2 separate regions of the Homo sapiens genome follow, and region 1 is linked to region 2. Evidence: fine-mapped expression QTL. A gene starts in region 2. The other region holds a variant in brackets. All regions are shown on one strand. Distances are from middle to middle. Region 1 has its middle 23 kb from the start of APPL2. Region 2 holds the start of C12orf75 (chromosome 12 open reading frame 75).

Region 1 (5,383 bases), 71 kb before region 2:
AGATGGATGCTCAGTCTTGCCAGAGTTATCTTTTTTTTTTTTCCTCCATCCACTGCAGAGATCAACACAGAATGAACATGAAATTAGTCCCTTAGCTGCTGCAAGAGCTGCACCAGCTCCTGGGCCAGGGCTCAAGACTTCTCACTAAATTCTCACAGAGGTCCTCCTTAGACTTCAGAAAGCCACTACGGGTTGAATACTGTTGTGCTAGTATGTTCTCACACTGCTATAAAGAACTGCCTGAGACTGGGTAATTTATAAAGAAAAGAGGTTTAATTGACTCACAGTTCCACATGGCTGAGGAGGCCTCAGGAAACTTACAATCTTGGTGGAAAGCAAAGAGGAAGCAAGGACCTTCCTCACATGGTGGTAGGAGAGAGAAGTGCAAGCGGGGGAAATACCAGACACTTATAAAACCGTCAGATCTTGTGAAAACTCACTCACTGTCATGAGAATAGCATCGGGGAAACCATCCCCATAATTCAATCACCTCCCTCCCTTGACACATGGGGAATACGATTCAAGATGAGATTTGGGTGGGGACACAGAGCCAAACCATATCAACCATTTTCCATCTCTTCCCCTCACTTAATAGCTTCTCTCACAAATTTCAGGTTTATTTCTTTGCAAAACTTACCATATCTGGTCATCAAAACTGCACGTGGCTCATTTGGAGTGCAGTTGGTTACAGTGCTCAACTCTGGGTAACCAGAGAGAACAGATTTGTTGTTTGATGCTTGGATTCTTGATGACATAGGTCTGTTTTCCATCCTCTCCCTTTTTTCTCCCCATCCCTGGACCCATCAACCTTCTGCCTTCATGTAATTTCAAAGTGTTCTCCAGTAGAGAAGAATGTCACGAAGGCCTCCTTTATAGAAGTACATTACTCATACATAGTTTATTTTTCACTAGCGTTCTCCCGGCTAGGATGAAATTTTTCAGGCTTAATCATGTCTAAAAGAAGAAATATTTTGGAAAGTTTGAGCAAACTCACTTCAGAAACTATTGAGGATTTAGAAAATCAAGTTGTAGATGTGTTTTAGGTGAAGAAGTTTCATGAGGGTCATCATTACTTTCGGCAAGCCTCTGTTAAGTCCTAGGCACTGTGGAATAGCTTGGACTCCATGAAGATCCCTTTGTTGAATAGTTTGGGTCCCTCCAGGGTATGTTAGAGGCTAGACTGGCCATGTCTACAGCCTCAGCCACTCACTGCACTTCATTAATTTAAACGACTCCCATGAGCTCTGACATATTGGAAGTGAGAGTAGGTTGCTGGATCTAATGACCACTTGAAATCATTCCCAACCCACAAATAAGTTTTCACGGAATTCTCATTCCTGAATAAAGTTAAATCATGATTTTGACACACCGTGGAGGACTTGGCTCTTAGTCATAGCTCTGTGAGTCACTCTGCTCACCCAGAAGGTCACTGAAGATTCAAATGAGGCAGATAGGATTGTCCATCTCTGCTGGAAAATTGTTCTATAGCAATTTTGCCTATCTAGTACAACATTTTGGAATGCTTGGAATAGAGTAACAGCAACAGCAACACAATCATAGACCATGATAACTGCCATACATTGAGGCCTAATGTATGTTAGATGTTGTGTTAGGTGCTTATATAATTGAGGTCGACAACCACGCAAGGCATGTATCATTATTCTTATTGTGTGTATTAGGAAACAGAGGCTTACATGACAAGTTTGGAGGTGGCGTTGGGATTTGGGCTCAGATCTAGCTGACTCTGATGCCTGTGCTTTGCCCACCACACTGAACTGCCCTGAAAATGTGATTCTATACCTGAATCTTGCTTTCTGGGATGCTATGTAATTGAAGAAAAGTCTTTGATACCCCAATTACCCTGATGTGATTATTACACATTGTATGCCTGAATCAGAACATCACATGTACCCCATGAATACATATACCTATTATGTACCTGTAATCATTAAAAATATTTAATTAAGAAAAATGGGAGCAATGGAAATATGTGGAGAAGGAGTGTTCTTGTGAAAAGATTCCTTTGATGTAGCATTTTTAGGAATACAATGTTTTTTTCCCCATATAACTGAATTGTCAGTTTGTTATTTAAAAAATACTTTTGAGGAGGATCAGAAAATCTTGGGAGAAAAGTGCCTTTGTTCTTCTTAGCCTTATTAAACAGAGTAGACAGAATGTAACATTCTATTCTTGGTGTGTTAAGGCCATTTTTATAAGCATGAATTGTGATTCTCTAACATGAATAGTGCTATCCCTGGAGCTACTGTAGGCTGTCTATGAGGGAGAGGGTGTTTCCTCTATATTAACCAGCATGAGTTCCTTTTTTTTCTTTTTGTTTTGTGGGATGTCAAAGTCATCTCTCAAGACCCTACTTAATCATCTTCCTTGGAGACCTTCCCTGACCCCAAGGTGGAATGCTTCTCATTTAAGCTTCAACCAGCCCTTACATACCTCCATATGGCATGTGGCCCCTTGCACTATAAGGATCTCTTTATAGGCAGGTGTTCCCACCTGACTGCACTGTGCTGGAGGCCCTCCTTCCACCGTGTGCCCCAGGCCCTGCTTGGTACAGCCCATGCACAGAGTGGTCTCTCAATACATATTTCTGGAATGAATGAGTGTTTATACCATAGATGATAAAAAGGGAGTGAATTACTTTTTCATTATGATTGGGGGGTTGTTATTGAGGTCAGGGTAGCAAAATGTATACATCTTTTTTT[C/A]CTGAATGCTTTTCATATTAAATATGAATTTGTGGGTGTTTCACTCTCCAGTCTTCAAATGTGAAGCTGGCTCTATGGTTTCTGTGTGCCTGTGTCATTATGTATGACTTTGGTTCTATGGCTGAGGTCATTTTAGGCTGTGGGCAGACCTCCCCAACCTCTGCCTGTGCTGCAGCACTCCACTTGATCCATCCCATGTTCTCTCCTGACCCATCGTCCTTCCTTGACTTCCTCATAAGAGGTGAGTTTCACTAGCCTCTGACTCTCTATAGAGATGTCAGCAGACAAGCTCCTAAACCAGTTCCTTCTTCTCCTGGGGGTGTACACAGTGGTCACCTTGTTGATAGCAGAATTCCATTCCCTGATGATCTGGCATTTGCCACATTGTTGCTCACTGAATTTGCAAGTAAAGCTCCCTCGCCGACAGAGGAAGGGTCTCTCCTTAGCCCCTCCCTGCAGTGAGGGTCCAGCAGTGATTAATGCATGGACTAGGAGGGAAGTCGGCCCTTTCTTTGGGCCTGTTTGATCACTCACAGCTGTTTACTTAGCATCTCTACTGTGAAGATGATACAAGTCCCTACCTCATATGGTTTTTACAAGGATAAAATAAAATCATACTTGTGAAGCATACTATCATTTCTGGCATACAATAAGAATGCAATAACAAAACCTACTAACTTTTGCCCAAGATTAGGGGGAGGGCAATCAGTGATATTAATAAATTTAGTTTTCTAGCTTAAGGATTCCAGATGCCTCATCTAAACCTTTGAGGGAAGGTTTTTGTTGTTGTTGCTTGAGATTGTTACAAAACACTTTGTCTAAGAAGCAGAAAAACCCAATCCAGTATCAAGATTAGGTTCAATGTTAGTAGCACAGCCCCCTTCCCTACTCCCTGGATAACCATGGCTTAAACACACAGATTTTCTCTCTCACGTAAAAGTCCAGAATTGTCAATCTAGGGCTAATGTGGTAGCTTTTCTTCATGAGGTCCTCAGGGATCTAGGCTCCTTCTATCCCGAAGCTCCATCATATAACCTCCATAGGTTACATCATGGCCCAAGAAGGCTGCTCAGCTCCAGCCATTGAATCTACAATCCAGGCAGAAAGTAGAAAGGGGCAAGGAAGAAATAGTAAACGGTATTTGCCAGATCTCTTTTAAGGAGGATTTCAGAAGCTGCCATATGAGACTTTTACTTATATCCCATTGGACCGAACTGACTCACATGGCCATACCTAGCTGCAAAGAAGGTTGGGAAATTCAGTCTTTATCTTGGCATTGCCCTGTGTCCAGCCAGAAACCAGGAGTTCTATTACAATGGAGGAAATGGAAAATGAATATTGAAATCAGTCTTTGCTGCACAAACTCATCCACTTCTCCTTATTATATTCATTACATTCAAGGAATTTAAGTGAGGTCCCTAAAACCTCACTGTATTCTTTTCAGTCAATAATAACATGACTTAGCATTATGCCTGACACTGATACATATGCAATAAATCTAGGCATTGGGAATGCAAAGATAAATAAGGAACAGTTCTTCCCTAAATAAAAGTGGTATAATGGCTTCTGTGCTGTACCAGTGGTAGTTTCAAAGTATTATTGGATATGGGGGAAGGGATGAGTGACTTTCTGGAGGGTCACGGTGGATGGTCTGGAAAGGTCTAACAGAGAACAGCTTTTGTTTGGGACCTTGGTGAATAAAGAGGACTTTCTTAGAAACAAGCAGATACAAGCCAAAAATCAACTGCTGGGTGCATTCCCAGCTATAGGCAAGAGGTTCTTGGCTCAAATATGTGGATTCAAGCAAAGAATTAGGAAAAAATGGAGAGGGAAAGTACTTTGCCTCCTCCCATCTATGTGCACCCAAGGAACCAGAAAAAAAAGAATGGAATACAATGGTTATTTTTTAATTTCAATAGTAAAACATGGCTAGGCCATTTATTGCTATAGTCCAAATTTTTCCTCTGAAATATTGGATACTTTTCCTGTTGAAGAACAAATCTAGCATAAGGTTAATGGGCAGAGGGTCCCATTTTTAGAAACAGGTTAAACATACTGTACTGTGGAATAAGCTAATGTATGCCTGATATGAAATTTATGCTAAAATAACTCTAAAAATCTCATTAGGAGAGTAACCAGAGATCCTGAAAAACAGCTTTAATAATGGCAATAAAAGCAATCTCACCTAGTTTAGTATTACAAATGGGGAAATGAAACTATGAAGTTAAGTAGCCTAGCAAAGCCATGGGGCATTATTATAGAAGCAGCTCAGATTTTCTCATTCCTATGAACGTTTGGTTCCCTCAGTTACTAAACCTCTTTTGCATATGGACTTTTGCATATATATAACTATATAGTTATTTCCTACACTACGTACATATAAGGTTTCAAATTACACTTTGTTTTCTATTTTGCTCCAATGTACATATAAGCTCACATGTACAACCTGAGAAAACTTAGAGTTGACTGTGACAAGTCTTGATGTCTTTCATCATGCCTTTGGATAACAATTTAAACAACAGGGACAGTGCTGTTACAAAACTAAAATTATAAATATGGAAGCCATCATATGTCAAAACTGGATGCAAAATATTTTGAAGGCATTGCTTCCTAAAAGAAAACAAAGTAACTCTAGTTCATCAGAATCCAGGGAAGAAGAGAAA
Region 2 (5,379 bases):
TTCTTTTTTTTTTTTTTTCTTTTTTTTTTTTTTGAGACAAGAGTCTCGCTCTGTCACCCAGGCTGGAGTGCAGTGGTGTGATCTTGGCTCACTGCAAGCTCCGCCTGCCAGGTTCATGCCATTCTCCGGCCTCAGCTTCCTGAGTAGCTGGGACTACAGGTGCCCGCCACCACGCCTGGCTAATTTTTTGTATTTTTAGTAGAGATGGGGTTTCACCGTGTTAGCCAGGATGGTCTCGATTTCCTGACCTTGTGATCTGCCCTCCTCGGCCTCTGAAAGTGCTGGGATTACAGGTGTGAGCCACCGCACCCGGCCAATGTCTGATTTCTTTACATCAACCACACCTCACAAAAATATCCTTTCTTCAGAGGGCCTTCTGTGACCATTCTATTAGGTTAGTGCAAAAGTAATCGCAGTTTTTGCCATTAAAAGTAATAGCAAAAACTGTGATTACTTTTGCACCAACCTTATATCTAGAATAGCACCTCTCCCTCTACTCCTAGTCTCCTATTCCAGTGACTTATTTTTTCCCATCGCACTTGTATCTAAAATTATCTGATTGTATTTGCTTTGATGTATCTCCTCCCACTTGATTTTTCCTCTCTCTCTTGTTCACTGCTGTCTCTCAAACATTTAGAAGAGTGGCTGGCACTTTAAAAACAGATTGGGGGTACAAGTGCATTTTTGTTACACGGATGTATTGGGTGGTGGTGAAGTCTGGGCTTTTAGTGTAACCATCACCCAAATAGTGTACATTGTACCCAACAGGTAAGTCCTCATGGCTGGAGCTCTTAAGGTGATACTCAATAGTGCTTGTTGAAATAATGGATAGATCACATAATCTATAACATTATAGGGCAGAATGCACACTACGAGGAACCATGAGATATCTCAGTAAGTGAGTGTTAGAAAAGAACCTACAGGATTTAGGTTCATAATAGGTGATTTTGGTTGGGATTTAAGGAAGCAGAACTTTTTTTTTTTTCTACATTGGATATTGTCAGGAAGCAGGGACAATTCTATGATTAGAGATTCTTAATGAACCTCATCTCTAGGCAGGAAGACAAGAACAGGGCTAAAACCATAACTGGTAAAGCAGCAGCAGACAATCCTATCAGGCAGGATGGGGAGATGTTTGGTGTTTTGGGGGTTTGCACAATGACCTTGTTTTTGTCAGCACTTAGACAAGATTACCGAGTCACCTTGTTTTTTGTCTCATTTCATAGTTTATAGAGTGGCCTTGTGTGATATTGGTGTTCTATGCAACTGTGTTTAACAGGAGAATGCAAAGGCCCAGCTGTTGAGTGTCACAGCTTCTAGGCCAGTTTCTAGGTGTCAAGGTCCATTTTCTGTCTCTTACAAGTGTCCTAAGGCTGGAGTCTAGTGTCAGCACAGAAATAAGCAGGAGAATATCTTTCGGCTACTTGATAGTTCCCTTTTCCCCAGTTCTGGCTATGTATTAGGATGGACACTGAACCAAGACAGCACAGGCTGGTAGAGAAGCAGTACTTCTAGAAGTCAACTAAAAAATGCCTTTATTTATCCAAGAATTAATTATCCTCTCAGCACATGGCTACCACAGCTAATTTTCAAATGGAGAATGCTGTATATTTTGCATCCTGAATGATAGAACGCACCATTGCCTCAAAGGCCATGTTCAAAAACCTGCCAAGTCCTTGATTCTGGTTCATATTTTTATTTTTATGTAAACACAACAGTATGGTTTCAGGGAAGTCTGTTTTTTTTTTGTTTTGTTTTGTTTTTTTGAGACAGAATCTCGCTTTGTCACCCAGGCTTGAGTGCAGTGGTGCTATCTCGGCCCACTGCAACCTCCACCTCTCAGGTTCAAGTGATTCTCTTGCCTCAGCCTCTTAAGTAGCTGGGATTACAGGTGTATGCCACCACACCCAATTAATCTTTGTATTTTTAGTAGAGACAGGGTTTCACCATGTTAGGCTGGTCTCGAACTCCTGACCTCGTGATCCGCCCGTGTCAGCCTCCCAAAGTGCTAGTTTACAGGTGTAAGCTACCATGCCTGGCCTTAGGCAAGTCTTTTAACTAGCATCCCAGCATCCTCTGGGACTCTATGGCACCTGTATTCCTCTGTTAACATTCCTTCTATATTGTAATTAATTTATTTTAATCTATCTGCCTGGTTAGACTGTCTCCCACATATTTGTATCCCCGGAACTTAACAAAGGACTTGGCACAGGCTAGGCTCCCTACAAATATTAAGTGAATTTAAAATGGAGCTTTAATTCCTGGCTTGAAGTCACCTCACAAAACATTTAGTGAGTCTGTATTACAAGCCAGGAGGACGCTATGAAAAATCAGATAGTCTTTCCCTTTAAGGAATTTGTATTCATTTCTATTAGAGTTAATAATAATAATGATAATAGCTGATATTTACTAAAGATAGGGAACTTTGTTAGGTACTTTATATGTACCTGAGTTACTGTCATTTTATAGGTGAAACAAGGGATGTACCCAATGGGTTAAGTTACTTTCCTGAGGTCACGCAGCTATCACGGGGCAGAACGAAGACTTTAACTCAGACAGTCTGACTGCAGTAACGCTGGCCCAACTATCATGTTGAAACGTACAGCACCGTGCCCATCCACAGTTCTCTCATTTATCAGAGAGGAGGTCCTGAATCCAAGTTATTGAAATCGTTGCAGACATTTGTTTTAAAGAGGAATAGGTCAAGATGACCAATCTGGGGAAGAACTTTTGCCAGGCAGTGCGTATGGGGAACAGAGCTGCGTTGGCCTTCTGTTAAAGCAGCTGGGGATTTCGGTTTTGGCTTCAGACCTGCACAACATTCAGTCAATAGCATTTATTGGGCGTCCACTGTGCAGGGTGCCCCCTGCTACTTCCTCTCCTCCCCACATCCTGGGGCAGGGAGGGGAAGTGAGGAAAGAAAAGCAAAGACAAGGCGAGGAGGATGCTGAGGGTGGGCAGGTGGGCACCCCCACCCCGCTGCGCCGGCCACGCCCCTTGCCGCTCCCTCGCCCCGGGGCCCACTTTAAACTCCCGCCCCTCGTAATAACGACCAATGGCCGACCGCGAAGCGCGCAGGAGGCTGGGGATTGGCCAGTGCCGAGGTTGCTGGGGCGACGGGTGGGTCCGGCGGGTCCCCGGGCGGGGCGGGGCCGGGGCGAGGGGTGCCGGGTGGTTTCCGCCCGGCAGCCCGCAGCCCGCTGCGCCCCGGGCCGCGTCTCCCGGCGGTGGGAGGGGGCGGCCCCCACTCGGTTCCTGGCCCCTCGCGGCCCCGTCAGCCTCCCGCTCGGGGTGCGCCGCCCTTCGTCTGGGTCTCCGCCCCCAGGACCCGCGGCCGAGAGCTCCGGAGCGCGGCTTCCCCGGCCGGCTGCGCGATGGGCTGCGGGAACTCCACCGCCACCAGCGCGGGCGCGGGCCAAGGTGAGTCCGGCGGGAGGCGGGGGCCGGCGGGGGCGGGCGGGAGAGGCGGCGGGAAGGAAGGGTGCAGGGATCTTGGGTGGGGGGCGCGCAGCCCCCTCTCCCCGTCCCCATTTTCGGGACAGGAGCAGACCGCCCGTTTCTGGAAAGACCGAAAGCGTGGCAAGTCCCCCGCGCGGGGGCGGTTGCGCCTGGAGCAGTCGAGCCTGCGGGGCGTCTCTGCCGAGGGAGCGCGGGGAGGACTGTCGCGGGCTCCCCTGCAGCCGCCGGGGCTCACCTGCAGCTGGCGGGTCTCAGGGCTCTCCTGGGGGAGAGGATTCCCGGACGTGGTCCCCGGCCGCTCCCCCACCTCCCACACTTGCTCCTCCAGGCCTCTCCCCCATCTCCTCGGAACCAAGGCGCTGCACCTGGAAAAGTGCAGCAGAGCAAGACAGGACTTTTCGGGCAGTGGTGGTGGGGCAGGAAGCGGGGAAGGGTGGGAGTGGGGTTGGGGAGAACTAGAAGCAGAGCTGCAAAAACGCATCTGTGTCTGCCTTGATGCCGAAGACCGGCTGGGCTGCTCTTAGGATTTCTCTGAGAAGCTGCAGCAGTAAGGATGTTTTACATATGTGAGACAGAGCTTTATTATTAACAGTCTGTTAAGATACTTTTCATTAAACACACACACACACACACACACACACACACACAAATAGAAACTTCTTTTTATACCACTTCATGTTGATTGGCAGGCAAGGTCTTCTAGCTTCCCCGGGCCAGCCAGGCTTTGTGTCAAGTGACTTTTGCCAAAACTCACCCTTCTATTTCACCCTGCCTATGTCTCGGGATTTAAGGTACCCTGGATCTGTTTTGAGTAATAACTGCTGACCTATTTCAGTGTCCTTTTGGATAAAGAGCTCCTATCTCCTCCAATTGAAGTCAACCAGATGCCACATCCTAGCCTAACCAGCAAATGCAAACAGCAGTCAGAGGCTGCGGTATTTCCTAGGCGGCTGTGGAGGCCCTGGCAATGACTTTGTAACCTTGGGCCTGTCACATCCCTTAACCCAGACGCCGGTAAAAAATGGAGTTTAAGACTCAATTTGAGTCTTGAATTAAATCCTGTCCTGGTGACAATGCAGAGAGCCACAGGAGAGCGAACTTTTTAGATTCATTTAACAGTGGGGAAGGTTAGTGTAGCACCTTATGCTAATGAGGGCAGACGGGCTTCAAACCTGCCTGTGGCCAGAAAGCTCTGCTTGTATGAAACAATGTCAGGGCCACACCCCGCACTCAAATTGTGTCTCAGTCTACTAGGTACTGTGGCCGTATGCAATCCACTGCATGTGTAGCCTACTTAAAAAAGGTGAAGAAAAGTTATCCACATTAAAAAAAATTGTAGGAAGGATTTGTAGCAGATTTCCCTTAAAATGAGGCTAGTTTCATGCATGTACATTTTGATTTATTAATGAACTGCTTGTCAGTTTTAGGGATGGGGAGGGGGTACCATTGCCAAATGAAAATCAGAATGATGGACCAGGCGCAGTGACTCATGCCTGTGTAATCCCAGCACTTTGGGAGGCTGGGGTGGGTGGATCATCTGAGCTCAGGAACTCGAGACCAGTGTAACCAACATGGTGAAACCCAGTCTCTACTAAAAATACAAAATTAGCTGGGCGTGGTGGCGCCTGCTTGTAATCCCAGCTATTTGGGAGGCTGAGGCACGAGAATTGCTTGAACCTGGGAGGCGGAGGTTGCAGTGAGCTGAGATCGCACCATTGCACTCCAACCTGGGCAACAAGAGTGGAACTCCGCTCCATCTAAAAAAAAAAAAAAAGAAAAGAAAAGAAAATAGAAAGATGGTAAGGTATGATGAGCTAGCTCTAAAATGTTAATGTAAAAATCAAATTTGGGGGGAAAATATGATTTCTTGGGGAAATATGATTATCTTTATGAATATTTGATTGACTTTTTCCCTAGGAG

What was found. PIP is the estimated chance that this variant, and not a neighbour inherited with it, causes the effect. A credible set is the group of variants that fine-mapping cannot tell apart.
Region 1: its variant is the best candidate, but not a certain one, in a credible set for the expression of C12orf75 in whole blood (INTERVAL, PIP 0.89).

Annotation. Positions count from the first base shown.
Region 1 is chr12:105,256,255-105,261,637 of GRCh38, forward strand. No RefSeq gene overlaps it. Among named protein-coding and RNA genes, the nearest start is that of APPL2, 23 kb to the left of the region's middle. The variant C/A (reference allele first, on the strand shown) is at 2,721.
Region 2 is chr12:105,327,518-105,332,896 of GRCh38, forward strand. It overlaps C12orf75 (chromosome 12 open reading frame 75), which reads left to right and starts at 3,174. Exons shown (of 6, transcript NM_001145199.2): 1 at 3,174-3,420. The coding sequence starts at 3,375. RefSeq lists silencers at 2,810-3,469, 3,500-3,599 and an enhancer at 4,256-4,799.